Linked DNA regions of Homo sapiens: all the other regions are linked to region 2. The links come from fine-mapping of genetic effects on gene expression. A gene starts in region 2. Each other region holds a variant in brackets. All regions are shown on one strand. Distances are between the middles of the regions. Region 1 holds the start of ERO1B (endoplasmic reticulum oxidoreductase 1 beta). Region 2 holds the start of GPR137B (G protein-coupled receptor 137B). Region 3 overlaps GPR137B (G protein-coupled receptor 137B). Region 4 has its middle 36 kb from the start of GPR137B.

The links. PIP is the estimated chance that this variant, and not a neighbour inherited with it, causes the effect.
Region 1: its variant is fine-mapped to the expression of GPR137B in whole blood (TOPMed, PIP 0.98).
Region 3: its variant is fine-mapped to the expression of GPR137B in blood mononuclear cells (TOPMed, PIP above 0.99).
Region 4: its variant is fine-mapped to the expression of GPR137B in whole blood (TOPMed, PIP above 0.99).

What each region holds. Positions count from the first base shown.
Region 1 is chr1:236,276,209-236,283,740 of GRCh38, reverse strand. It overlaps ERO1B (endoplasmic reticulum oxidoreductase 1 beta), which reads left to right and starts at 1,783. Exons shown (of 16, transcript NM_019891.4): 1 at 1,783-2,059. The coding sequence starts at 1,958. RefSeq lists silencers at 1,439-2,028, 2,069-2,118 and an enhancer at 2,189-2,388. The variant C/G (reference allele first, on the strand shown) is at 3,007.
Region 2 is chr1:236,138,254-236,145,785 of GRCh38, reverse strand. GPR137B (G protein-coupled receptor 137B) reads right to left here and starts at 3,247. Exons shown (of 7, transcript NM_003272.4): 1 at 2,750-3,247. The coding sequence starts at 3,163. RefSeq lists an enhancer at 2,520-3,023 and silencers at 2,989-3,258, 3,329-3,508.
Region 3 is chr1:236,203,796-236,210,943 of GRCh38, reverse strand. It overlaps GPR137B (G protein-coupled receptor 137B), which reads right to left. Exons shown (of 7, transcript NM_003272.4): 6 at 5,694-5,818; 7 at 2,037-2,894. The coding sequence ends at 2,786. Among named protein-coding and RNA genes, the nearest start is that of GPR137B, 65 kb to the right of the region's middle. The variant G/C (reference allele first, on the strand shown) is at 2,052.
Region 4 is chr1:236,102,871-236,110,402 of GRCh38, reverse strand. No RefSeq gene overlaps it. Among named protein-coding and RNA genes, the nearest start is that of GPR137B, 36 kb to the left of the region's middle. The variant C/T (reference allele first, on the strand shown) is at 4,076.

The sequences.
Region 1 (7,532 bases), 140 kb before region 2:
CTCACCGCAACCTCCGCCTCCTGAGTTCAAGCGATTCTCCTGTCTCAGCCTCCCAAGTAGCTGAGATTACAGGCATGTGCTACCTTGCCCGGCTAATTTTGTATTTTTAGTAGAGACAGGGTTTCTCCACGTTGGTCAGGCTGGTCTCAAATTCCTGACCTCAGGTGATCTGCTCGCCTCAGCCTCCCAAAGTGCTGGGATTACAGGTGTGAGCCACCACACCCAGCCAATTTCTTTTTGCTTTTAAGCTAGGGAAGATCTGGACAGTTTGGAGGCAGAAGGGAAAGAGTTGCTGGAGGGGAAAAGGACAGGCAGGACTGGCTTCATGGGCATGTGACCTATGCAGTCAGCCACCCCAGGACCCTGCATTTGGTTTAATGCTCTGCTGGTTCTGAAAGGTATAAACCACTATGTGGTAGGCTGATTAATGACCCTCTATTTATAAATCCTCATCCTAATCTCTGGAACCTGTGAATATGTTATCCTATATGGCAAAAGGGACTGTGCAGATGTGATCAAGTTGAGGATTTTGAGATAGGATGGTCTGTAACCAATGTAATCACAAGGGTCCTTATACAAGAGAGACAGAAGAGTTAGGGTCACAAGAGAAGGCATGTGACGAGGGAAGCAGAGAGAGTGAAGGAGATGTGAAGTCATGAGGTAAGGAATGCAGGTGGCCTCTGGAAGCTGGAAAAGGTAAGGAAACACATTGTCCCTGAGAGCCTCCAAAAGGAACACAGCCCTACAGGTCCATTTTGGACACCTGATCTCCAGTACTATAAGGTAATGAATTTCTTTTGTTGTATGCAACTAAATGTGTGATAGTTTCTTACAGCATCAATGAGAAACTAATACACGCTACATAAACACAAGGGAGATGTATTACTCGTTTTGTAGAAATCAAAGGCATTAATAAAACTAATAGCAGTTACCATTTATTGAGTGCTTCCTAGGTGCTAGGCACTATACTCAGCTCTTTCTGTATCTAATCTTATGTAGCCCTAGAACAAGATATGAGGTGGGAATTAAGGCCCAATAACTAGCTAGAATGTTTTAGAGTTGGGATCTGCGCCCAATCTATGTCACTCTAAGTTTTTTTTTGTTTTACCCCATCCCCATATTTCATCATAAGCCTTTGGGTTTGTCTTCATTCTTTAGCATGCGTTATACTCGCACGTGTCAACCTAGGAGTCGGGCTGGGGCGGGGCAGGAGATGACATCCACATCTAGGGTGCATGAAATTAAAAAAGAGCCGAAGCCATCTCTACAAGTCACAGGTAGCTTACATAGGCACCCACAGCAGATGTGAGGCTACAGAAAAATGAATGAGACAAAGAATACGCTTCAGACCGAAAGTCAAAGATCCCGCACCGTCCGTTCCTAACTCGCCCGCGTACTGGGTGAATCCTAGAGCCTGGCGTCTGCGAGGACTCCAGGAGCGACAGCAGGGACCGACGCAGAGAGGTCCTCAGCCTGGTTTCCCGGAGAAGAGGTCGCCCCGCTTCCCCCGCCCGCACCCCCCGGTGTTTTGGAGGCCCGCGTGGTCCCGCCTCATTGGCCGCCGCGGAGCCCGAGGCCTCGGGGAGGCGGGGCGGCCTTCGCAGTTGTAGTTCCCGAGTCCTCTCGTTCAGCGGCTCCGCCTTCCTGCCGCGGCGCCTAGGCGACCGCCCAGGACCACAACTCCCACAAGGCCCCGCGCTTGGGGGCGTGGCCGAGGAGCCAAGCGAGCCGGGGGCGGGGCCGCCTGGGGGATGAAGTGGGGGCGCTCGCCTTTCCTGCCTCACTCGCAGCTGCCGGGTGTTGGGGAAAGAGTCGCCTGCCTCCGGACTGGAGTGCAGACCTCTGACCCTGGAGTCGCTCGGCCGCTGGGAACCGTCCCCTTGGGTCGTCGCCTGGGCCGCCCGTCGTTCCCCGGCCCCGAGGGGTCCGGCTGGCCGCGGTGTGGGTAGAGGTCAGCATGAGCCAAGGGGTCCGCCGGGCAGGCGCTGGGCAGGGGGTAGCGGCCGCGGTGCAGCTGCTGGTCACCCTGAGCTTCCTGCGGAGCGTCGTCGAGGCGCAGGTAAGCCCGAGTGATAGCGGGCCGGGAACCCCCGGCCGAACACCCGCGGCCGCTACACACGGGCCGCGGCTGTGACGCGGGGAGGGCCGGGCAGGGCCGGGCCAGAAAAGAGGTGATTTCTGGCGAGCAGAAAACCCGGGGAGCAGAGACCTGACCGTCCAGTGCGGGAAACATCTGCGAACCGCCCGCAGGGTGGGGGGACGGCGACACTCCGGGTAATGGCAGTCAAAAGAGGAAGATGGTGACGGTCCCCCTGAGCTGTTTTCGTTTTTTCCTCTCGGATGTGTTAAGCGGCTGGGAGTGTGGCGGGAGATGGGACGGGCATGAACCACCTCGGCTGTCTTGCGAAGGGAGCGAGCGCCCAGAGAAACGGTGACGTCCTTCCCTTCAGGAGTTAGTGAGGGAGGGAGACTGAGAGTTGGGGGCACTCCGCAGACCCCCGAGGCCCCGCCAGGCGCAGGGGATTGGGAGGGGGCAAGACTTCACTCGAACTGTCGGACTAGAGCTTTCTGGGCTTTTACTCTTCCTCGAGCACCTTCCCTTGCTCAAGATTGCTTTATTTTTACCCAGCTGAGCTGTGTCTGCCAAGTGGCATCGCCAGGTAAGTCCCAATACGAGACTGGGGGGGTCTGAGTGGGGCGTTGTGGCTCGTGGATGGAGGCTCTGGCTCTGGCAGTCGTGAGGTGCTGGCTGGTTGTTGATGTGAAGCGATGATTACAAGTGTTCTCAGTGTGCTAGAAATCTGAGGCTTAGCTGACCAGATCCTTTCGCCTTCAGAGAGGTGTTTGCTTCTATTCAGTAGAATTTGAATTGATTGCCAGGTGCTGCTGCTTGTTGTCTGCACCTGCTGCAAGGAGGCAGCACTGCTGAGGGCCAAAAAAATAAAACGAAGGTCTCAGGTGGCCTGATGATGAGGGGAGATGTCATTTGAAGCAATTAGTGCTCAT[C/G]CAAGAAAAATTGAAGGTGACTCTGAGTGTAACCGTGAAAACATGTTTTTCTGAATTGAGTCACTTTATTTCATGGTTTTATGGTGCCCTGCACTAAATCCCAGAGTGCCTGAATAGTCCGTTTGTGTCTGTGTTTGAACCATAAAAATAAAAGGGGCAAATTTTTGGTATTGGGGAACATGTTAAAATGCAGATTCTCTGGCCCTACCTCCACATGTATTGATTGGATCTGGAATATGGCCCAGATATCAGCATTTTAAACAAACATTGCAAGTACAGTATAACTGTAGCAAAGTTATCTTTTGACTACCTCTTGGACCTCACTTGGAAAACACTGAGATGGAATAGATAGTGGTAATCTGGGCAGACTTACTAAAGTAAATTTTCCAAATTGTCTTTGGCAAAATTATTTTCTAGTCACTAGTTGAGTGTTTCTGAGTGAAATTTACAATTCGATATTTTTCTGAAATGAGAGTTCCCATTTTCTCTTTTTATATAGCACATATTAATTTATGCTTATCTGTCTAGAAACTTCATTTTAAATTTTTTTCATTTACCACTAATTATGTGTAATTAATGTTTTATAATTTCACCTGTATTTTTAAAATTCTTGTGTAGAGATGGGGACTATGTTATTAGGCTGATCTTCAACTCCTGGCCTCCAGCGAGCCTCTTACTTTGGCTTCCCAGGTGCTGGGATTACAGGTGTGAGCCACTGTACCTGGCCTGCCCCTGTACTTTTAATTTCATTATATCCAAATGAATATAAATATAGTCCAACAGTTAAAGATTTGTGAATATTTGAAGTAGCATTGTGCCAAACAGTCTTCCAAGTGAATATATTTGGTTTTTGTTGCCAGCAGTACTTACTTTCTTTTTTTTTTTTTTTTTGAGATAGTGTCTCACTCTGTTGGCCAGGCTGGATGCAATGGCATGTGTTGGCTCACTGCAACCTCTGCCTCACAGGTTCAAGCAATTCTGTCTGCCTCAGCTTCCCAAGTAGCTGGGATTACAGGTGCTTGCCACCGCGCCTGGCTAATTTTTGTGTGTGTGTTTTTTTTTTTTTTCCCAGTAGACAGGGTTTTGCCATGTTGGCCGAGCTGGTCTTGAACTCCTGACCTAAGGTGATCCGCCTGCCTCGGCCTCCCAAAGTGCTGGGATTACAGGCGTGAGCCACCGCGCCCAGGCCGCCAGCAGTACTTTCTACTGTGCTGTTTTTTTTTTTTTTTTGAGATGGAGTCTCGCTCTGTGTCACCCAGACTGGAGTGCGGTGGCGCCATCTTGGCTCAGTGCAGCCTCCACCTCCTGGGTTCAAGTGATTCTTCTGTCTCAGCCTCCCGAGTAACTGGGACTATAGGTGTGTGCCACCACACACGGCTAATTTTGTATTTTTTAGTAGAGATGAGGTTTCACCATGTTGGCCAGGCTGGTCTCGAACTCCTGACCATAGGTAATCCACCCGCCTTGGCCTCCCAAAGTGCTGGGATTACAGGCGTGAGCCACCGTGCCTGGCCTGATCATCTTTTAGATAGTACTTTAATCTATAACATGGTTACACGTACAATCTCTCCGAAGTGGGACCATTGAGGTAATTGAAGTTCAAAGAACTTAAATGTCTTAATTGAATGAGTGACTTTACAGTGGAGCCCTAATGTGGAACCCTTTCTGGTCTATACAGTATGTTGGTATTTTCAGTTCTCTCTAGTATAGAAAAAGAGATGGAAAATAGGAAAATCAAAAAGTGGAATTCAGCCAGTTCTTTGACTTCATCCATATAATAAATTGGTAGAAAACTGATAAAGGGAAGAATTAGAATTTTTGAAAACTACCTCTGTTCACAAGAAATCAAAGTCATTAAAGGAGATACATATTTTAAATGTTATCCCCTTCCAAAATAAAAGCAGAAAAATATTTTTGAACACACAAAATGATACGTGTTTGTATATCTCATGCCCCATTATCGTATAAATGAAATGTAAATATACTTTGGTGAAGCACTGGAAACTAAAGGCATAGTGCATACAAGTGATATAACAATCTTCCTTTAAAAAGTAATTTCAATTAGATATATGTAAGTTTTTCTAAATGCATTTCTGAGGTGGCATAAAATTGAGTAATACACAGAGCCCCTCAATATATGAAAAGCCAGAAACTTAGAACTTAAATAGTGCTATACCAGTCCGTTACTCTGAGGGCTTCTCCTAAACCCTAAAGATCTTGAGCTGCTTTAGCAGTTGCATGGAGTGGAGTGGGCAAGAAATAACCCCGTGTCTGCCCAGTGAGAGGAAACTAATAGGAGCCTCCACCATAATTCATTTCTCGTTTACCCTTATATTGAGGATGTAGCTGTTTGGAGCCTGGACTTCAAACAATTACATCCTCAGTATAAGGGTAAACGAGAAATGAAACCCATTCTAAGTAAAGGGAATAAAAGAAACTTGCTGGGAGAAGCAGGGAAGAAACTTTTGAGAATTTGTAACCATGAGACAGTCCTCACACAGGTTCGCAAGCCAAATATTTATTCTGGGAAAATTCATAGCAGTCCCAAATTTGTGTGCCCTGGGTTTCCAATAAAAGCAAATATCCATCACCTCTGGAGGAATTTATTTTCAACTCAAACCTCGAAAAATTATTGAAGATGAAGTGCCAAGGAGAATAAACAGCTAGCAGTAAAATATCACAAAACACCCAAGGAAACAGGGCACCATGAATCAGATATTAGACAACAGAAACAAACACATAATGACCTTAGGTTCTGAAATTATCAGATAATTTAATATCACTATGTTTAATGTGTTCAAATAAAAAGAAACTTGAAGTATAGAAGGGAAAAAAGATTTTAAAGAGTGGCCAAAAAGATTTTAATAATAATGAATTAGAAGTTCTAGAACTGAAATTTAAAACTCGATGGATAGATTAAATAGCTGATCATATCCAGCTGAAGAAATGATTATTGAATTAGACAACCATTTCATGTCTTTTTTCTTTCTCCTTAATTCTCCATCACCTTTTCATCTATCCTTACTCTCAGTTCATACCTTACTAAAATTGGAGCAATCAGAAGAGAAATTCCACAGAGTAACCCATATCTATCCATTTACTAGTCTCTGTACCCACATATTTTGACTTCCTGTTGGTTACCATTGATGAACTGTGTGCTTTTATCAAAGGCAGCCCCTTCACTTGTATGTTAGGTCTCATTCCTTGTTTGCCGCTCATGGACATGGCTCCAGTAATCTTCTCTTTCTTTCCTGGATCATCAGTTTTTCCTTCTCAAATGGAATTTTACTGTCATCATGTATTAGTCCATTCTTTTTTTTTTTTTTTTCCTGGAGTAGAGTCTCGCTCTGTCACCCAGGCTGGAGAGCAGTGGCTCGATCTCAGTTCACTGCAACCTCTGTCTCCCAGGCTCAAGCAATTCTTATGCCTCAGCCTCCCAAGTAGCTGGGATTACAAGCTCCTGCCACAACGCCCAGCTAATTTTTGTATTTTTAGTAGAGATGGGGTTTTGCCATGTTGGCCAGGCTGGTCTCAAATTCCTGACCTCAAGTGATCTGCCTGCCTTGGCCTCCCAAAGTGCTGGGATTACAGGCGTGAGCCACTGTGCCTGGCTTAGTCCATTCTTGTATTGCTGTAAAGAACTGCCTGAGACTGGGTAATTTTTAAAGAAAAGAGATTTAATTGACTCACAGCTGTACAGGAAGCATGGCTGGCGAGGCCTCAGGAAACTTACAATCGGGGAAGTGCTGCACACTTTTAAACAACCAGATCTCATGAGAGCTCACTATCAGGAGAACAGCAAGGGGGAAGTCCGCCCCCATGATTCAAACACCTCCCACCAGGCCCCTCCCCAACACTGGGGATTATAATTTGACATGAGATTTGAGTGAAGAGATAAAGCCAGACTATATATCATAAAACATGCTGCTAATTCTACTGTTTTAAAGTTATCTTTTCATCCACATATTCCTTCTGCCTTTGCCTATTTTTTCTGTTCCCTCTAGAAAATTCAAGAGTTAGATTTAATTTATTCTTCCTTTGCTGGTTCTTCTATTTTTCAGCCCATTCTAATCAGACTTTTGCTCCTACCGCACCTCTGAAACTGCTCTTGGCAAGGTCGCCGATGTCCTCCTTGTTGCTAAGGCCAACGGTTTGTTCTTAAACCTCAGCTTTACCTGTTGGCGGCATTTTTTCACAACTCATCACTCACTCTCCTTGAAATAATTTTTATTCTGACATCCTGGATACTAAACTTTTCTGATTGTCTTCCTGTCTAGTGGACCAGTCTGTCTTAGCATTCTTTCTTTGTTCCTCCCCTGCCATTGACTGCTAATCATTTGAACCTCAGGGTTCAAAGCTTGTACTCTTTCTTCTCTTTATCTTAGTCATCTCTTCTGGTCTCTTAGCTTTAAATACCAAATGTACAGTGGACTCTCAGTGTTAGTCTCCAAGACTAGGATTCTCAGCTTTAGATCTATGTATCCAACTTCTTTTTGGACATCTCCACTTGGAGGATTAATAGATAT
Region 2 (7,532 bases):
CTTGAGCAAGTCATCTACGACCTCTCAGCCTCAGTTTCCTCCTCTGGAAAATGGGGACAATACCGGTACTTTCTTCAGAGAGTTCTGGTAAAAATAAATATAACCAATTGCTTAGAAGTGTGCTTTCTTGGCCGGGTGCGGTGGCTCACACCTGTAATCCCAGCACTTTGGGAGGCCGAGGTGGACAGATCACAAGGTCAAGAGATCAAGACCATCCTGGTCAACATGGTGAAACACTGTCTCTACTAAAAATACAAAACTTAGCTGGGCATAGTGGCACACACCTGTAGTCCCAGCTACTTAGGAGGCTGAGGTAGGAGAATCATTTGAACCCGGGAGGCGGAGGCTGCAGTGAGCCGAGATCGAAAGTATGCTTTCTTAAACATACTTCTTAATTGTTAGCTGTCAGCCCCTTCTCCAAAAATCTCATTTACTTGGTCTGAGATGGGGGCCCAAGCAACAGTCATTCTTAAAGCTCCCCACTTTAGGTAATTCCAATGGTTTGTGTAAGAGAAAGAGGGGGTGAGCGGGAGAGGAGGAGAAGGGAGGCAGAGCTGGGTTGGCGACAAAAGGCTTTATAACTCCCCAGAAGTATCACAGTTTTGTCACTAAGCCAGAAATGGCTTTGTTCTGCCAGGCTCTGAGATGCCAGCACTCAGAGATGGAGACATGCCACCTTCTCCAGCCAGCCACCCTGTGCCCTCAGGCGAAAAGCCTTTGCTGTGGTGCCCGCAGACCTGGGAGATATAAAGAGTACAGGGCCGTGACTTTGGGCCCCTGGGCCGGAGTGGCTCTGTCTGCCTGGTCACTGTTTCCCTTGCTCAGCATTTACTCACCAACCAGCAGATGGTGCAGAAAATGTGCAGCCCGGCCCCTAATCCGGCTCTAAGTTCAGAATTTGCATGTGATTACCAGAGAGCTGTGGCAGTTCCCTGCATTTTCCTCTTCCCCCACTGCCCCCCAAAAAGGGGACAAATATAAAGAGCTCAACGTGCAATACCACCATTGTCACAGTTCTTAGGGTAACATCACCTCACCTGTCTTTTGCATCTTGCTAGAACCACCTCATTTCAATTACAAAACCCAAGTGTCTGTGCAATGCAGCCGACTGCCTGAACTGGTTTGCAGGTTTAAAGGTTGTACTTGGACAGGCAATACGCATTACTCTCCGACCGGAAAATATGCTGATGCGCTGGACTTACAAGAAGTCTGAGTGTAGACCCATTTTTAAAAGATTATACTATCTACAAAATATCACATATGCTATTTTTTAGCCAAAAGTACTTCTTCCATATTTTCAGTCAGTGGCTTCCACTGTACCAGAGCAATCCTTTTCCTACTTTGTTTTTTTTGTTTGTTTGTTCGTTTGTTTTTTTGAGACAGGATCTAGCTCTGTCACCCAGGCTGGAGTGCAGTGGTTCAATCTCTGCTCACTGCAACCTCCGCCTCCCGGGCTCCGCCTCCCACCTCAGCCTCCTGAGTAGCTGGAACTACAGGCGGGCACTACCACACCCAGCTAATTTTTGTACATTTTGTAGAGAGGAAGTTTCGCCATGTTGCCCAGGCCGGTCTCAAACTCAGGGACACAAGCGATCCTCCCGCCTCCGCCTCCACAATGCTGGGATGACAGGCATGCGCCACCGCATACGGCCTCTTTCTTTTTTTAAATAAGTGACTTTTTCTCAAAAAAAAAAAAAAAGACACTTAAAAGGAATGAGATGCCTGCTTGCACAGGGTTTCTGCCCATCCGACAGTTCTGAAATTACCCTCACCAGGTGACACCGTTGACGCCTTCCCCTTCGGCAGAGTCCTAGTGAAAATGGACATCTTAGTGCTTGGAAAGCTAATGGGAATCAGAGATGATGATGACGATGATGACGGCGGCACCGCGTTATTAAACCTTTGTGCAACGCTATACAAAGTATTTGCAAAGTGCTCAACAATTACTGCACTTTCATTAAGTCAACCATCAGCAGTAAAGCAGCAGCCAAGTTAATTCACATACTCTCCCATTAGCTTATTTAATAATATGCCCCATAAAGTGATTTTTGTGTGGCTGTAAAAGAGCCCCAGTCAGCTTTTATGGCCTTTTCTTGGGGCCTCTCAGATGAGCTCAGACAGTAACTCTGATGAGCGGCAGCAGCTCGGAGCTGGGTGTTACCCCAGCCTGCTGTTTAGCAATCCGGTGGAATGAGTTAGTAAGCCGCAGTTCTGTAGAGCTCCTAAGCCGGAGGTTCAAAACATCTCATCAAAACCAACATGGTCTCACCCTGCCAACGCTCAAAACAGCAGTGTCAGGCCCAAATCTGGAGGCCAACGTGCAGAAGACCTTTCCAGGCCGGGAGTTAGGTGCCTGGGGAGGCAGGGCAAATTCTAGAGTTCAGGCCTCCCTTGGGGGCACACCTTCCATCCGTACTAACTGGCGTGTGCAGGCGCTGCTGCTTCGCGCTGCGCACGGAGAAGCGCCCCGAATCCACCGCACGATGCGGAGCCAGGGGCAGCGAGTGAGCGGCGGCCTCCAGCCCTCCCCTGCCTTCTCCTTGCCCCTTTTGGGAATGGCAGGGGGTTTCCTATGACAAATGCCCGCAAACAGGACAGGGTTCGGACGACCCCAGAGCCGGCGCCTTCTCCCTACACTCTCAGCCCTAGGGCCGGACCCGCCCCCGCGGCTGCCATCGCCCCTGCCTCGGGCGCCCCGCGGGGACCACCCCGCCAGGTGAGCGCCTCCAGGAGCCTCTCTGAAACTCACCTGCGTGAAGTACAAGTTCATCAGCGTGAGGGTGAAAAACTGCAGGCACACAGGGAAGCAGTAGAGCAGCCAGAAGACGAAGGGGCTGAGCGAATTGGCCGCCACGAAGTCTTTGAAGTAGAAGGAGAAGAGGACGGTCCGCAGGGAGGCCCAGAAGAGGCAGAGAAAGAGGAAGACGCTCTGGTAGCTGAGCCGCTTGTGGCGGTAACGCAGCACCAGCCAGAGCTGCACGTAGATGAACACGAAGAGCAGCGCGTAGAACACGGTGTAGACGACGGTGAGGCCAAGCTTCACGTAGGGGGGCACGGCCGGGGTCAGCGTGGGCGGCAGCGAGTCGTTGCGGGCTGGGTCCCACGGCGGGGTCTCCATCGGGCCGGGGGCGCTGCCGCGCGGCCGGGGACGCTCGGGCCTCATCGGGGCTCACGGCCGCCGCCGCCCCCGCGGGGGTCTCCGCGCATCGCGCTCAGCCTGCAGCCCCGAGACTGGAGGAAAGAAAACAAGCCGCACTTCCTCCCCCGGCACCACATGATTCACTGGGACGGCCTTTGTCTGCGATTGGCAGCGCCGCGCCCGCCGCCCCCGCGCGCCGACCGGCCCCGCGCGCCCCCGCCCCGGCCCGCGCGCCCCCGCCCCGGCCCGCGCGCCCCGGCCCGCCCTCCCCCGGGCACCGCGCGCCTTCGCCCCGCGAACCCCGGCCCGCCCTATCCTCGCCACCGCGCGCTCCCGCAGTGCGCGCCCCCAGAGCCGCACGCCTCCTCCCGGCCCCCTCCCCATCCCCGGGGCCGCGCGCTCCCAGACTGCGGGCCCCCAGAGCCCCGCGTCTCTTCCCCCCTTCCCGCCCCCTCCCCATCCCAGGGGCCGCGCGCTACCCGTCCCCGGCCCCTTCCCCATCCCCGGGGCCGCGCGCTCCCGCACTGCGCGCCCCCAGAACCGCGCGCCTCCTCCCCGGTCCCGGCACCGCGCCGCGCGCCCCCAAAACTTCCCAGCCGCGCCCCGCGCCTCGGGGGATCGCACTCGTGGCCTCGCGCATTCTGCTGCTGATTGCTTGTTTTGCAGAAGTTAATTCCTTTATTTAAAAACAAATTTAAAAAAAAAACTTTACAAGTCCTTTCCGTCCCCCCCTTTAAAAATAAAACTTTACGACTCTGTGGCTATGAACTGGCCGGCGTCTGGAATGATGTTTATTTCTAAATGCAGACATGCCAAAGACAGGGTTCGTATTTTTGAGGTCAAATTTGTATACTGAGTGAGGAAATAGACGGTGCCTGCGGCTGCTGCCTCCTCTGGGATGCAAGCTGGGCTGTTTTCTCCCGGAGAGCCTCACGCGCTCCCAGCGCCTCACCTCCCAGCGATGTAGCCGGTGCCGGGAGGCGCGCGGGCCGCGGGTCAGTGGATGGAGCCCACTGGGCTTCAGAGAGAAGTGGGGCAGCTGACGGCACACGGCCCCCCTTGTCCGATCCAACCCATGCCGAAGGAGGGTCTGTCCCCGCCACCCGAGAGCCCTTCTCTTTTGCTTTTGCTGAGCAGCTCGCTCCTCGAGGCTGTACAGCGACTTAGTCTTTGCCCCGGGGCACCACGCCACCCTTGTCTTGGGAGAGCTGGGGAGTGCTCTGGGAAAAGAGGGAAAGCCGGGCGCCCTCTGGAAACATTGCTGGGCAAGCGGTTCTGGTAAACAGAAGAAACTCGGATTTCCGAGGCTCCAGTAATTGTGATTTCTTTTCTTACTCCACTTCGTGCCTAATTGTGTGTTCTTTTTCCAAAAGACGGCCTGGCATATCCAGAATCCACCCTAGCTTTTGCTCAGAATTACTTAGTGGTTACAGCGCTCCCAGCGTATTCCAGGTGGTTCACTGGGGCCAAGTGTGCCTTTGGCGTGGAGCTCCTTTTCCAGTTTTTCTATCCTTTCCCTCTCTCCCTATCGCTATTTCAAGAGGAAATACGGAATTGGGCTCCACGCCTCTGATCTCGTTCCCCTCAATCCCCGTTCTGAACAGCGCAAGTGGAATGATGGAATGATCGCTCTAAAGAACACCTGGCCACTTTACTCCCGTGCTTAAATGCCCTTCCCTTGCTCCTCATAGTTCTGGGGTTAGAGTCTAAACTCCTACCCTAGCTTACCTCCCTGCCTTATCTCTTCCAAGGTGTTAAGCAGTGTTAACACCTCCTGACTCCCCTAGACTAAGAAAATTCTGCCCTTTCCTCCAACAGCTGGTCCTTCCTAGCTATCCATGAGGGTGTAACTTCCTGCAGAGAGCCTCTCCAGAACTCTCCACCCACCAAACTCTCAGGATTAGGCTAGGTGTTTCACCTGTGTGCTTCCCTAATATCCTTGCCTGATTGTTAGTTTCCCCCGCAACACACTTATTTATGTGTCCTTATGATAGAAACTAGGCTTGTTTACCAGTCTCTCCCCTGGCACATTGGAAAAGCATCCGTATACATTTTATTACACTGAAGGAATATTGTTTGTCAACAGAGGTCCAGACTCTGATATTTCTCCCTCCAGTGTGCATGGATTCTACCTCATGATCCAGGAGGGCTACTGGCTCTCCAGACATTGAGTCCACATCCCAGGCCAGCGTTAGGAGGAACAGGGGAAGACTAAAGAGCACTTGTTTTCTCCTGTTTCTGGAGCCTTCCCAGAAAGACCACATAATGCATCCACTTTTAGCTCATTGCTAGGACTTAATTACCCTAGCAAGCTGGCTACAAGAGATTGGGAAACGTAGTTTTAGTCCACGTGGCATTGTACACAGCTGAAAGCCATGGTTCTGTAATTATGGATGAAGGGGCGAATGGATTTAGGAAAAACTAGCATCTTTATCATGACTTCAAAGCAGACAAAAAGAATGCCAGATGGCTACAACAGTTCACCTCTTTGACTACCTAGTGTCAAATGTTTCTTATCATCTTTACAATTCTGAAAATACAATAAAGATGCTCCCACTTAATAACCCTTGTACAATTGAAAAGCATTCCAAGCCAGGTGCTCACACCTGTAATCCCAGCACTTTGGGAGGCCAAGGCAGGTGGATCAACTGAAGTCAGGAGTTCGAGACCAGCCTGGCCAACCAAGTGAAACCCTGTTTCTACTAAAAATACAAAAATTAGCCGGGTGTGGTGGCACATGCCTGTAATCCCAGCTACTAGGGAGGCTGAGGCACAAGAATCGCTGGAACCCAGGAGGCGGAGGTTGCAGTGAGCTGAGATTACGCCACTGAGCTCCAGCCTGGGCCACAGAGTGAGACTCCATCAGGAAGGAAGGAAGGGAAGAAAGGGAAGGAAGGGAAGGAAGGAGGGAGGGAGGGGAAAAAAGGAAGGAAGGAGAAAGGAAGGAAGGAAGGAAGGAAGGAAGGAAGGAAGGAAGGAAGGAAGGAAGAAAACAGAAAAACACATTCCCTCTTTCCCCCAAAAGGATCATCATTTTCTGTGTCCAGCTCCAAGCCCAGGAGCTCTGGGTGATAGCCATTCCTCCAATTCTGTCACCATCTCATCTCAACATTCTGTATCTTACGGACTAAATTATTAAGTTATCCATCACTAGTTTGTCCTGTATAAAATAGTAGAAGAAAAAAATGTAAAGGAAAGGAGAATTCATTATTAGGTTGGCGCCAAAGTAATTGTGGCTTTTTGCAATTAAAAGTAATGACAAAAACCACAATTACTTTTGCATCAATTTATAAAATACATACATATGACACAGCAAGAAAAAAATATAAGTTAGAGTTGTTGTTTTTCTGACTGGTCATAAAGCTGTAATTGCTCTCCTTAATGGACGTTACAAAATTTCCCTTTCCCTTCATCAGGGATCTCAGCTAGTCAGGGGTAGCCCTGATTTCTGAGGAATCTAAGCTTGTTAATGTTTGCCACTGGACATGCCAGCAGCAAGAGGCACTACCATGATTGAATTCTGTCTATTCACCTTTTATTGCTCATCATATAACAGCAACTCTACTTCCTCTTAATAGTTACTGTCATCACAGCCAACACCATCATACTATTTTTTACAATTCACCCACTGGCATGAGGAGTCTGAAATAGCCAGGGTCTCAACTTTTATTTCACTTAAACCACACTTGAATCTCCTGGGGTAGAAGAGTTCCTCCTTGGTTACTAAGACCTTCAAACTAGCCAAGCCTAGAGGCGAAGGAACGGGAAACAAAAAAATTTGCAAGTAAGTCACTGAGTGTTAGTGAAAGGTGCCATTCTCTTGGTTCCTGTAGCCATGTATCCTGACTGCAGGACAAATAGCACGATATGTCAGCTTTGGGTTCAGAAGAAATTCTATATATTATAGGACACCAATGCTACCTTTCTGTGCATTGTTGTCCTGCAGGCACAATAACTAAGCCTACAATTGGTCATTCCACCACTGGATAAGGCCAGCTGCTACTTGAGGGACAGAAATTAGCCTACCACGTTTCTTCTTTTAGTATAAAGTGAGGTCCTTGGTCAGAGCAATATTGTATAGGATACCATGATGATGAGCAATGCATTCAGAAAGTCCCGGGACAATAACGCAGGCACAGGAGGCAAAGAAAGTCAGTCCAAGTTCAGAAACATTGTCTATTACAGCAAGGACAAATTGCTGATATCCTACGTGATTAAAGAGGTCTATATAATCTGCTTTCAGGTGGCTGTCTAGGACTTCCCCTGAGTTTGAAACCTCTTGAAAGGCTCAGAGTTGGCTGGCGATACTCATGAAAAGCCAGGTCAGCCTTGGTGGGGAAGTCCAGATTGTTACAAAATGGATCAGTCAGTCCCTGCCTGCATGGTCACTGTG
Region 3 (7,148 bases), 65 kb before region 2:
GACACCTATTCCAATAGTCAGAGAAACTATTTCCAACAGTTACCCAGAAACGTTCACATGAAACTTTTCAGTGTTCCATCAGACTTAGCTAAATGATGGCACAAAATTTTCAGTGATTCCCTCTTCCCCATATACTTCAACTTTCTAATCATCAGGGCTTTAATTTCATCGTGTTGCTTTAAAACAAGAGGACATTTGGGTATTTTGCAACCAGTAATCACCATTCCTTTTCCTCTTAGCATTTAATATTCCACATAAGTAGTTTTTTTGTTTTGTTTTGTTTTGTTTTGAGACCGAGTCTTGCTCTGTTGCCCAGGCTGGAGTGCAGTGGCGCAATGTCCGCTCACTGCAAGCTCCGCCTCCTGGGTTCACACCATTCTTCTGCCTCAGCCTTCCAAGTAGCTGGGACTACAGGCACCCGCCACCACGCCCGGCTAATTTTTTGTATTTTTAGTATAGACGGGCTTTCACCGTGTTAGCCAGGATGGTCTAGATCTCCTGACCTTGTGATCCTCCCGCCTCGGCCTCCCAAAGTGCTGGGATACAGGCGTGAGCCACCGCGCCCAGCCAGAAGTAGTTTTGTTAGTGTACCTAGTAGAACAAGTAAATTAGAAAGCCAAAGGGAATTTTAATTTTCCTTACTAAGAAGGAAGGAGAGTTTGAGTAATCAATCATAGTTTTTTTGTATTCCGTGTTTACAACACTTCTAGAAATTTTAGCATTACATTTTTAAAAGGGGAATGAGAAAAATAGGCACTTAGAACATTTTTATACTATCTAACAAAAATAATAGTTCAAATAAATCCCAGTAGCTTCATCATAAAAGTAGGCTGACTTCTCTCACTTAATGCTGGGTATTCCAATTTTTCTGCCAGTAACAACAGAACTGTGTTTACATATTACAGGATGAGTATGATATTAGTGATAGTCTTATCACTATTTTTAAAAATATATCTTCCCTTAGCTGACCTAATACTGAAGGACTTCAGGACTTTCTGAAGATGTAACTTAAAGGAGTTTAAAACATGCTGAGTCTGCCTTTAAATTAACTATTAGTAATACAGTGTGACCACAATAATCTGTTAAAGCTATTTAGAATAATAGCTTATAATGTGTTAAGGCAACTTGAATAACAGTGTAGGGTTCACTTCAGTATAGACTTTTCCCTGATAACTACTTTAAATGCTATGTTACCCCAATTTTTTCATGTACTAGAAGACAAGAATGTTGTTATGTAGGATTATGCAGAGTGAAGGTGTTCTATACACATGAAAAGCCCAATGATGATCAATTTGAAACTTGAGATCCCAATTTTAAATACTACCAAAACAATAGTAGACTTCATCTGTGAAATCAATGCCCAGAGATCAGTTATTCCTGAAGATCAAAATGAGAGGAGTCATTTGAAATGGGTTGCATCATGTAGTAGGACTTGTTAATATAAGTTCCTTTTCATTGAACCTTCCCTCTGTCCCCAGATGAGCATTCCTAGGCAGAGAAGAAACGTGCCTTGTTTCTGGTAACAGTACTTCCTCTAGAACCTTATCTCTGTTTTATAGAAAAGCAGAGCATTTAGCCTCCCAATAGGCAGTTTTATGGCTCCAGGATATATATAGTGGAGTTTTTAGAATGGCACTTCCGGTCTGGGAGGCAGTACTTCATAACCTGTTTTTTACTTAAATGAAAGATGACTTACAAGGAATTGTCTGGAACATGGCTGACAGGCATCATGCTACAGCATATTGCAGTGCTATTGCCATTTTTAAATGTGCAGCTTCCAATAGGCTCTTTACAGAGCTATTTAGAAGGGCATTATTTTAAATATAGTTGGAGATTACGGAAAAAACTATTAGGATTCCACATAGTCTTAGCTCAACGGCTTGGGGTATTTGTTATTAATGCCCTTTATGGACCCTCTTATTTTCTCCTTGAATGTAATGAACATTCAGTGAGTTCGGAAAGGGGTGTATTCTTGATGTGGCCCTGAGGTAATGCATATTAGATTTCATTAGGCTGAAAAAAAACTATGCAGAATCTGTGAACATAGCAGA[G/C]GAGGTTTAATAGGATAAGTCAGCTACATTTTTAATGTTATCAACTTATCATTAATGTGTATACATTAGCGCCCTACTGAAAGGAAGTACCAGTCTTTGGGCAAAACTTAAGAGATTCCTTGAGGAACCTACGGCCTGAACCTTAAAAAAAAAATCTCTAAAGACCTTACAGTCTGCTGCTTTACCATTTCATTTTAATTATCAACACTGGAGTTGCAATTGGCTAAGTTGTCAACTGTATTTTAGGAGTCTACCAATGTGGCACTCAGAATCGGAGTGACCATCAGTGACCTAAAGAGGTAAGATTTGTGGAATACTTTAGTCCAAAAGCTTTAAAAAACTATTAGACCATATATTCTATATTTTTAAAGTGAATTATGCATAAAAGTCTGTGCAAACTACAACATGATTGCAGTAACATTCTCAAGAAAAAAAAACCCTAGTATACTTTAGCATTATTATTTAAGTTATACAAAATACATCTTTATAAAAGTACAGATTTTCTTTAAAAAGTTTAAATTATACCCACTGAAATAGCAAGGCTCCCTCTTTAGTACTAAAATAAGGGTTTATCAGTCTACATTATTGCTTATTCCTATGGGGCCATTGGAAACCTGTAACAAATAAAAATCAAGTTCTATTTCTTAAGGAAAAGTGCCCTAAAAATTCAGCTGTCACTATGCTTTTCTGAAGCTTTTCATCTGAGGAATCGTCCATAAAACTGTTAACTGATGCTACCCAAGGCTTGGTTTGTCAGGATCCAAAGTTGAGTCTTGCAAAGTTCCTGCTTGTGCCAGGAAGCTGTTAGTTTGTTGTCCCCAATCATAGTAATCTGGAGCAAAACTTAAAAAGAAAAAAATATTTCAGTGACTTGAAACATTATATAGTATGTATGACATAGTCTAGTTTAGGTAGACAGAGCTGAGATTTTTGTGTAAACTATAGATAACTCTAAAGTTCTTTTAAATGGCTCTTAAAGTCCATTTTCCCACAAAACCATGCTACACACAGGGCTGAAATGCCCACCGACAACTCTACTGAACTCTTTAGAGCACAGAGTATACAGCATGACTAGAGAACCCAGCCAGTCACTATGCATAGGAAATGTTTTCAGCAACAAACTGCATCTGAATCCTAACATGGAGTACAGCTCACAACCTGTGGTGGTGTCTTTGGACAAGTAACTTCTATGCCTCAATTTCCTCATCTTAGAATGGGAGTAATATTAGTAACTACGTCGTGGGCCTATTGTGGGGACTGAGTTAACATCTGTAAAGTGCTTAGAACAGTGTCTAATATATAGTTAATTCTCAATACACGTAAGTCGTTTTCATTATAATTATGTTCCTCTATGTAGTAGAAAGGGGGTCTTGTCTTCACCATATCGGTAGTGAGGACTCCCTCAGCTCTAAGTCATTTCTGGCAGGTGAGAGGGTGGGACAGCTCTAGCAGAATATGGGTTTAAAGGGGAAAGCAACTAATAGGAGATGCAGTGGGGTAACTGGAAAAGAACAGTTTTAAGGAAGAGGTGGAGCTCAGAATCTGAGTGACCCAAAGGACAGCTTTTGACTTCAAGAAGTCCTTCTTGTTTGTTGGCTTGCTTCCAGCTTACGTTCTTTACATCTGCTGGCTCAGCGCATTGGGCAGCTTTCTTCTTTTTTCTCAGCGACAATCTTTTATCCTATCTGACCAGGATTTCTCTGCTCCCCGATCACTGAGAAAGCATGTATTCTCCCAGCTTTTCTTCAGTACTTCTGTCCCTAAAACAAGGACTCTTTTCAGAGCTCTCTTAAAAAGTTTTCTAAAGACTTTCACTGTTACTAACAAGGAGTAAAAAGGCAAGCATATATTTTTTATCATTTCATCCCAGAGGGAAAAAAGTTGTAAAGTTGTTAATGCTAAGTCTTTAATCTTACAAAAGATTACATAAGATAACCTTTCACTTTCTAAGAAGCTCCCCTTTCCCAGGAACAGGATGGGGGTCCTGAGAGGACAAGCAGAGAGAAGACAGGCTTGGCAGGCACTATGTCAGCCCTTTTGGCTCCTCTCACCCCTGCTGGCCTCACCGTCTCAGAGCCACAGGCTGAAAGGGGAAACATGATAGTCATCGGGTAGTGGAGTATGGCTGAGCACAGCAGGCTGAGGAAAAGGGAAGGGAATCCCAATAGCAACTACCCTTCCTGTTTGCAGACCATGCCCATGCTGAGGTAAGCAAAACTTGGAATCCTGGGGTGGATCTCTGCTATGGTTGCAATTTCAGGTGCTTCCCTCTTTTTATTTGCCTTCCCAATTCACTGAAGATTAGGCGATGGCAGCGGACTGGTAGTTCATGTATTGTCTTACACCCTCTATGTATGCTGCTTTGAACTCTCAGTATTTAACTGCCCTTTCCACATTTTCTGGGCCAGATCCGCATGTAGATTCAAGGAAGGAGACTCCTGCTATTAAAACTCACGTGAAAGTATAACATAAGCGTAGGTGAGACTAAGAGACAGGGTACTTATATACAAACTGTTTACATAGTATGGTGATTCAGAAAACAAATTTGAACAAAACTGCCTGAGTTAGAATTGTAGCCTGATCACTTGCTAGCTGTGTGACCTTGGACAAGTTACCTACCCTCTAGATACCTCAGTTTCATCTGTATTATGAGGCTAATAATAGTACTGACCTCTCAGGACTGTTAAGACTAAATGAGTTGATATTTGTGAATCTCTTAGAACAGTGTCTGATACAGAGTAGATGCTATAGAAGTATTTATTAAATAAGTATTCATGAAAATTGAGACCAAATAAATACCCTTCATGTAAATGAAATTTTAAATTAAGAACTGACATCATTCAAATTTGAAAACTTGGTCCTTTATAATGTATAATTTATTCTAATAAATAAATACTACTGCATTTACTCTCTAGCTTTAGAACATGTGATTAAAGATATCATGTTCCATTGAGTGATTCCATAGACAAGTGCTGTATTTCCCTCTTGGAGATTCAGAGCACACATTAGCATATTACAGGCTCGCTCGGCATTTTCTAAAAAGTTTTTTTTCTGGCCGGGTGCAGTGGCTCACGCCTGTAATCCCAGCACTTTGGGAGGCCAAGGTGGGCAGATCACTTGAGGCCAGGAGTTCAATCCAGCCTGGCCAACGTGGCAAAACCCCGTCTCTACTAAAAATAAAAAAATTTGCTGGGTGCGGTGGCGCACACCGGTAATCCCAGCTACTCAGGAGCCTGAGGCACAAGAATTACTTGAACCTGGGAGCGGGAGGTTGCAGTGAGCCAAGATTGCACCACTCTGCACTCCAGCCGGGCAACAGAGTGAGACCCTATCTCCAAGAAATAAAAAAGTTGATTATCATTTCCTTTTGCACAGCATAACTATTAAGAAAATAGTGTTTCATGGAATATTGTTTAGGAAACACTACTGTATACAATAATGCTATGGGGCTTTAAAAAAACCGGATGTCCTTTCTCATTCCTGAATGTTTCACATAAGTAAAATGATCTACTGAGAATCCAGTCTTATACCACCTAAGGCTGCACAGTTTTAACGTAGGAATTTTCTTTTAGCTTGAATCTATTTAACTGGTGTAACCCTTCCCTCCTGATGAGGCTTGTCTAACATGAAGTAGGGTCTTACCCTCCCTGAAGTCCCTGAGGGGCAATGTTCCAGGCAAGGTCATCATCACTGTCATATCTTCGAGGGTTGTCAAAGAAATAAGATCTGGGACTGAATCCATGGCTGGGGACCATTCCAGGGTTGGTCTAGAAAGACAGGTAATCATTCAGCATACTTACAGACATCATGCCTTGCACCAGACAAAAATAAGATCTCTTTCTTGTAGGAGACTAAAGATGTTCTATTCATTTGAATGTAGGCTATATCTGTTCAGCTGGAATATTCATTTCAGTTACTCTTATGTTTGAGAGGGATTCGCCTTGCCTTTTATCAGTATGGGCAAAGTCTTCTATCAGAGTCTTGCTTGCAACAGTGAGTCATCATTGTTTTAATCCCTTATTGAAAAGCTAGATGATGAGTAACTATATGCCAATAAACTGTAAAATCTAGAAGAAATGGGCAAATTCCAAGACACATACAGCCTACTAAGACTAAACCGGAAAGACTAAAACCCGAACAGACCAATAACAAGTCTTTTATTCTACCTAACTAGAATTTCTCTGCTCCCTAATCCACTGAGAAAGCAATGTTTTCTCCCAGCTTTTCTTCAGTTCTTCTGTCCCTAAAACAAGGGTTCTTTTCAGAGCTCTCTTAAGGTTTTCTAAAGACTTTCACTGTTAGTAACAAGGAGAAAAAAGGCAAGAGATCAAAGCCATAATAAAAAGTCTCCCAGTAAAGAAAAGCCTGGGACCCAATGGCTTCACTGCAGAATTCTACCAAACATTTAAAGAAGAACTAATGTCAGTCATACTCAAACTAATCCAAAAAAAATAGAGGAAGAGGGAGTACTTCTACACTCATGGAGGAGGCCAGTATTACCCTGATACTAAAACCAAAGACACATAAAACTGTAGGCCAATATCTCTGATAAATATTGATGCAAAAATCTTCAACAAAATACTAGTAAACCAAATTCAACAATACATTGGAAAGATTATTCATCATGACTAAGTGGGATTTATCCATGTGATACAAGGATGGCTCAACATAGCACAAATAAATGTGACACATCATGTTAACAGAATGAAAGATAAAAACCATATGATCATCTCAATTGATGCTAAAAAAGCACTTGATAAAATTCAGTGTTCCTTCATGATAAAAACCCTCAAACCGGGGAAAGAAGAAACATACCTCAACATAATACAAGCCATATATGACAGACCCATAGCTAGTATCATACTGAATAGGGGAAAACTACAAGCCTTTCCTCTAAGATGTGGAACACACAGTCACCACTGTTATTAAACATAGTACTGGAAGTCCTAGCTAGAGCAATCAGACAAGAGAAAGGGCATCCAAATTGGAATAGAAAAAGTCAAATTAATGACTCCACAAAAAGTATGAGAACTAATAAATTCAGTAAAGTTGCACAAAAAATCAGTAGCATTTCTATATACCAAGAGTGAACAATCT
Region 4 (7,532 bases), 35 kb after region 2:
ATGGTGGACGGCATGGCCACCTTGGGCAGCCCACTGCTGATGAACTGCAGCATGGCCACGTGGTCCGGCCACAGCCACAGGTGTCTTGCCCTGCTCGATTTCCTGGCTGGCCGGGTCATCCAGGTGTCCATACACGATCTTCTCCAAGAGGGTCAGAGGCCAGTTCAGTCGTTTGCAAACAATGTTAATGTTCTTCTCTAGCAGGTCATAGTGGATGTACTCATTGGGCTCAAAGTGGCTCATCGCCATCTTGGCCCGTTGGCACAGGACTGAGGCCACATGGTATTGCCGCACACCCAGAGCTTTCTGCAGCCGGGTCACCAGTGGGCTGTAGGGAGCCATTTTGTGCACTGACAAAGATGAGGTCGTGTGAATCTACCTCTTTATCAGCGATGTCAATCTCTCCGGTTGGCTGCTCCAAGACGCCATCCCTAACCCCGTCTGGTTAGGGATGAGATGAGACGCCTCTTCTCACTGTTGTCACATCAGCCTGAGCAACCTCATCACACGGACTCTCTGTCGCTTGCTCATCGCCCACCAGACATCCAGGACCTCTGTGTGGCTGGCAGATGAGTGAGCATGAAGTGTGCGGATCTGGGAAGCCTCTGGGCTCCGGCACCAGACACACCTGGCATGATTCCTGCCTCCTCCGGTTGCTGGCTGGAAACCCTTTCACCAGACGCCTAGGTTGCTTAAGGTTCATTTTCCTCATCCGCAAAGTGAACATCCTGTTACTCATCTTGCAGGGATGATGGAAATACTGAATTATATCTACAAATAATTGCATATATTAACAATGTCAGCCACATAGTAAATTTTCATTCCTTGCATATATCGCCACCTAGTGGACATCTTTAACCAATAAGATTAAATCCGCTTGGACATTCCAGGCACGATTTCACACTCCTCCTTTCCATCCTGCCATCCTCAGCAACTCGCTGGATACACCTGGACTGGTGCTGTCCGGCCTGCAGGCCGCCAGCCCCATGTGGCTGCTGACCACTTCAGCTGTGGCTAGTTGGAATGGAGACGCGCCCTCAGTGTAAAAGGCATACTGGGTTTTGAAGACTTAGTAGGTGCAAAAGAATGTAAAATACTCCAACAATTTTTTTTTTTTTCTGAAATGGACTTTCACTCTTGTTGCCCAGGCTGGAGTGCAATGGCGCAATCCCGGCTCACCACAACCTCTGTCTCCCAGGTTCAAGCGATTCTCCTGCCTCAGCCTCCTGAGCAGCTGGGATTACAGGCATGCACCACCACGACCAGCTAATTTTGCATTTTTAGGGGAGATGGGGTTTCTCCATGTTGGTCGGGCTGGTCTTGAACTCCTGACCTCAGGTGATCCACCCGCCTCGGCCTCCCAAAGTGTTGGGATTACAGGCGTGAGCCACCGTGCCCAGCCCTCAACAATCATTTAAAATATTGATTATGTTATTATAATTATTGTCATATTTCTTTTTACCTTTTTAAATGAGGCTGCTAATGGCCAGATGCAGTGGTTCATGCCTGTAATCCCAGCACTTTGGGAGCCGAGGCGGGGTGATTACCTGAGGTCAGGAGTTCGAGACCTGCCTGGCCAACATGGCAACACTCTGTCTCTACTAAAAATACAAAAATTAGCAGGGCATGGTGGTGCACACTTGTCATTCCAGCTACTTGGGAGGCTCAGGCAGGAGAATCGCTTGGGTGCAAGAGGCGGAGATTGCAGTGAGCTGAGATCGGCTGAGATCGTGCTGCTGCACTCCAGCTTGGGCGACAGAGCAAAACTCCGTCTCAAAAAAAAAGAAAAAAAGAAGCTGCTAAAAACTTTAAATTGCATATATGGCTCAGCTTTGGGGCCTGCATCATATTTCTATTGGACAGTGAGTGCTATTCTACTCTCAAAAAAGAATCTGGAGGCTTGTGTCAATTCATTCACTAAGTGTGTGTGTATGTAGGCGGGTGTTTCAACCCTCATGATTGACACTTTTCGAAGAGGCCACAGATAAGGAGCCAAACTATACCCAGAGATGTTCCAAGCTGGATAACTGTGTGTCACAGAGAGGCTTCAACAAAAACAGGAGTCAAAGTCACTTGTTCTGATGTTTCACCCTGCCTCTCTGGACTTTCCCTGTGTGCAGCCCAACACTTCACATCTTGGAAGGTGGCTTAGGCTTCTTTCGCAATCTCTAGCCCCAAATCCATTTGCTCATGTGCAATCTAGCAGTCAAGTATCTGGTGCTGTTTTGGTTTTGTTTTGTTTTTTGTTTTTGAGACAGAGTCTCACTCTGTTGCCCAGGCTGAAGTGCAGTGGCATGATCTCGGCTCACTGCAACCTCCGCCTCCCAGGCTCAAGTGATTCTCATGCCTCAGCCTCCCGAGTAGCTGGGATTATAGGCATGTGCCACCACACATGGCTAATTTTTGTATTTTTTAGTAGAAATAGGGTTTTACCATGTTGGCCAGGTTGGTCTCGAACTCCTGGCCTCAAGTGATCTGCCCCCCCTCGGCTTCCCAAAGTGCTGGGATTACAGGCATGAGCCACTGTACCCAGCCTCATGCTGTTTTTGTTTGCTTTGAGACAGGATCTCACTCTGTTGCCCAGGCTGGAGTGCAGTGCCATGATCATAGCTCACTGCAGCTTCGAACTTCTGGGCTCAAGCAATCTTTCCGCCTCATAAGTAGCTGAAATTACAGCCATGTACCACCATGCCCGACTAATTTATTTTTAACACAGATAGGGTCTCACTGTGTTGCCCAGTCTGGTCTTGAACTCCTGGACTCAAGTAATCCTCCTGCCTTTGTCCCCCAAACAGCTGGAATTACAGGGATGAGCCCAGCACACCAGCCCAGCCTGTGCTGTTGAGGTGGAAAGGGCTTCAGATTTTCCAAGATGCTTTCAACAAGAAGCAGTCATCATGCAAGCTGGGAAAACATCCACCTGGCAGATGTAAACGCTGAGGTCCAGAAAGCAAAGGCTGGTGTATTCGATCATATACTATACGTGGATGAAAAACGTTTCAGTCTACCTCAAATTTAAAAAGCAATTTTCTGATTCTGGGAATCATGGCTTGGAGGCATTGTGATTCACCCTTGCAAATTTCTGAGAAATTAGTCGGTAGAGAGCAGAAAGCAAACGTGAGAAGATATAATTAAAGAGGCCAGATAGGGATAAAGGGCTTATTTACATCAAGAGTCTTTCAAAGAAAAGAGAAACCAAGCAGTCAGTTGAATGTTAAAAAAAAAAAAAAAAATTAGAAACAAGGCAAAGACAAATGACCATACCAGAGGAAGCAGATACATCAAAAAGTCAGAAAGATAATGAAAGATGAGAATCTCATTGTAGAGTATACAGGTTTAGATTAATTATCAAAAGCTCCGCACACACATTTGGAGAGAAAAAAGAGAATGCAAATTCAGAGAAAACTCAAAGTCCTCAGTTATTTCCTTCCCATCTCCCTCAGCCTCAGTTTCCCCATCTTATGAAACCAGATGACCTGTAAGGCTCCTTTCATATCCATATTTGTAATTCTACAAAATAAATAGCTGCATGAAGATCTTTTACTTCTCAGTTTTTATCTCCAAAATTTCGTAGCCAATTTTTGTAGAGAAAATAAAAATTACATATGAGCAAGAAAGGCTAATTAAAATAATCTTACCACCTAGAGATAGCCACTGTGAATATCTTTATGTATATTCTTCCCTATTCATATAGGCATACATAGAAATAATTTTGTATAAATTTTATTATGGCCTTTTTTTTTTTTTTTGAGATGGAGTCTCGCTCTGTCGCCCAGGCTGGAGTGCAGTAGCGCCATCTCGGGTCACTGCAGGCTCCGCCCCCCGGGTTCACGCCATTCTCCTGCCTCAGCCAAATATTGCAAGGATGTTTTCTTGTCTTGGTTTCCTTTCCACACCATTGTCTGTGACCGCTGCCAGGTATTTTAGTCTAATGAAAGTATCGGTATAATATTAGTTGCAGTGAAAATGTGTGTCCAGATTGGAAAAGATGAAGAAAGCTGAGAAAAACAACATTTTTCCTTGCATGATGCCTTCTACTTTACAAAAGACTTGTATAAAAGCTTTGTATGGGAGG[C/T]CGAGGCGGGCGGGTCACGAGGTCAGGAGATCGAGACCACGGTGAAACCCCGTCTCTACTAAAAATGCAAAAAAAATTAGCCGGGCGTGGTGGTGGGCGCCCGTAGTCCCAGCTAGCTACTCGGGAGGCTGACGCAGGAGAATGGCATGAACCCAGGAGGCGGAGCTTGCAGTGAGCCGAGATTGCGCCAGTGCACTCCACCCAGCCTGGGTGACAGAGCAAGACTCCATCTCAAAAAAAAAAAACCAAAAAAAAAAAACAACTTTGTAATCAGCCGGGTGCAGTGGCTCACACCTGTAATCCCAGCACTTTGCGAGGCCCAGGCAGGCGGATCATTTGAGGTCAGGAGTTGGAGACCAGCCTGGCCAACACGGCGAAACCCCATCTCTACTAAAACTACAAAAATTAGCTGGGTGTGGTGATGCATGCCTGTAGTCCCAGCTACTTGGGAGGCTGAGGCAGGAGAATCACTTGAACCCTGGAGACAGAGGTTGCAGTGAGCCAAGATCACGCCTCTGCATTCCAGCCTGGGCGACAGAGTGAGACTCCATCTCAAAAAAAAAAAAAAAAAAAAAAAAAGCTTTGTAATCTACAAAGTGTTTTTACATCTTCTCTTAAGACTGCCCAACTAGCAGCGTCTAGCATATGGGTAGTGTCAATAAGTGTTATTAAATAAATGGGAAATCAAACAAATATGCATTATCATATGTATCCTTATGAAACTGGGATTTGGTAGGCCTCATTCTCATAATTTTATGAATGTTTTAAAGCTGCATCTATTACCTTGATAAAATCCATTATAATTTACATAGTATCCACACAGACCGATCTCATTTAAGCCTCCCAGCCACTCTGTAACTAACTAGGGTAGATAGCATCAGTCTCATTAAAGAGAGGCAGAGGCTGAGGTGGAGATAATCAGGGTCAGATAGTCAATCAGCGGAAGAGCTTGACCTTAGACTCAAACCCATGACACTTTCAACTGCTTCCCGACTGTGACCAAATGTCCCGCCCCACCTTTATTTAAGCAGTTTGTGCTATAGTGAGGCAGAGTCACCAGCATGCAGGTAAATGTTTAAAGTTCAGCTCTGGGGGAGTGGAGGGAGCCCTGATTTGTGGAGTTCGCTGATTTCTCTGGTGTGAATACTGCCACATGGCGGATTTGAAACTACTGACACAACGTCATGGTGTCATTGTGTAGAGACGTGCACAATCAGCTCAAAGGTGCTAGCTGGCTCCAACGCATCCCTGGGTGGAATGAACTTTCTTTCCACCTGATCGTTAATTCCTGGAGGCCAGGAACCACATCTCTTTGCAGTTTTCACTGTGCTATGCACACAGACGGCAGTGCATCAGCGTTCGGGCTCAACATCAGGGTTCAGCCTGGGTTTCCCATTCTCTGGTTTCCTCACCTGCCAGCCCTCTTCCCCTGGACCTGGGGAAGTACTTGGAGACAATCCTGCCCCCTTTACCATTTCCCTTTCCTTCCTCTCCATTCATGTCCCGGTCACAGCCTGAGGCAGAGTCATGGGCCCAGTGCAAGAAGAAAGGCCATGGGAACCTTAGGATCTCGTGGGGTTTTGTTTGTTTGGCTTTTTGTTTGTTTGTTTGTTGAGACAGGGTCTTACTCTATTGCCCAGGCTGGAATGCAGTGGCATAATCACAGCTCACTGCAGCTTTGACCTCTACGGCTCAAGCACACCACTATGTCTGGCTAATTTTTTTAATTTAAAATTTTGTTCTAGAGACAAGGCCTCGCCATGTTGCCCAGGCTGTTGGATCTCATGCTTTGTGGTGTTTTTTGTTTGTTTGTTTTTGAGATGGAGGCTCGCTCTGTCGCCCAGGCTGGAGTGATCCAGCAAGCTCACTGCAAGCTCCACCTCCCGGGTTCAGGCCATTCTCCTGCCTCAGCCTCCCGAGTAGCTGGGACTACAGGCGCCTGCAACCACGCCCGGCTAATTTTTTGTATTTTTAGTAGAGACGAGGTTTCACCGTGTTAGCCAGGACGATCTCGATCTCCTGACCTCGTGATCAGCCCGCCTCGGCCTCCCAAAGTGTTGGAATTACAGGCGTGAGCCACCGCGCCAGGCCGCTTTGTGGTCTTTTAAGACCAAGCTTAGAGTCTTCTTCCTGTCCTGGAGTTCCGGCACTCACCTTCTCAAGAAGCTTGGGCAGCTGCTTCCATGGGGGCCAGTGGGAGGAAGAGAGGGAGCAGATGGGAGACGGCTCTGACCCTCAGTACCGCAGGGCCGTTGCTTCAAAACTGAACTGGCACAAAACCCATCAACTGTTTGGAAACCAGGATTCCTGGCTTCTGGTTTTACTGCCCAGGGCTACAACTCTTGGGGCTATTTTTCTTGCCAGACATCTTACTGGGATTTTCTGCTGTGGAGAGCACCTCGTGCTGGTCTGCGCTGATAAAGAAATGTCATTTTCTGGAGGGTTGGTTGATGTGCGGATCTTGAAACAACGAAGAGCGCGCAGGGAGGCGGAGAAAAGACAGACTTTGGCGCCATCTACTGGAAACTTCTGTTTCTGCATGATGTGGATGAATTGGATAAAACTGACAAAATGGAAATTGTATGTATATTCTGTTCTTTGATACATGATTGATGTCGAAAATCTCTTATAAGAAGAAATATAGAAAACATATATTTAATGAATCATGAGTTAAATTCTAACTTCTCCTCTACTAAAACTTCTATCAAATCTGCTGTCAGGCAAAAATGGTTGAATTTTCATTCTACTCCAACCCACCCTCCCTTACAAATACTGTGCTAATATTCAGCAACATAGCAAGGACTAGAGAAGGGACAACAGCCAAAACAAAGGCTGCGCAAGTCCACTGGCCTGAAAATCAAGTCCAGAGAAAAGGGAAAGTGATTCTACCTGCAAACCAACCCAGCCCCTTGTCTGAGGAGGGGGTGGACAGGTACCTCCAGCAACTTCTAAAATCAAGTGACCACAGCAAAACGGAAACAAGAAAAGATGCACCAGCTGCAGTCACCGCCGAGCCCCTGCTTAGCGGCAGCTTTGCTGGAGAGTGTCTCCCTTTTGTGGGGTGGGGCCAGAGCCTCAGACACCTGGTGTTGGGGGCAGATGCCTTCCCTCATTCCAGCTTCACCTTCGGAGGCTGATCTACAAAGGCCAAGCCCCAGGCCGCTGGGCTTCATTTCCACACCAAAGAGCAGAGTCAGCCATGCCTCAGGCTGCTTTCTCTCTGCCACGTTTAAGTTTTAGTTCATTCAAATCCATCTTCAGCAACTTAATTGCCGTACAGTATTTCAGCACACTGAAAAATAACCTTTTCTCACACCGAAAGCACTAGACCTGTTTTTTCAGTGCTGTGATTTGTTGTCTGATATCATTCAGAGCTTTTCAAAAGCTGCCGCCGCTATCATCTTGCAACGGCCTGTGAAGTGGGTGGGAAGGTGCTGCTCCTAGTGCCAAGAGGGGA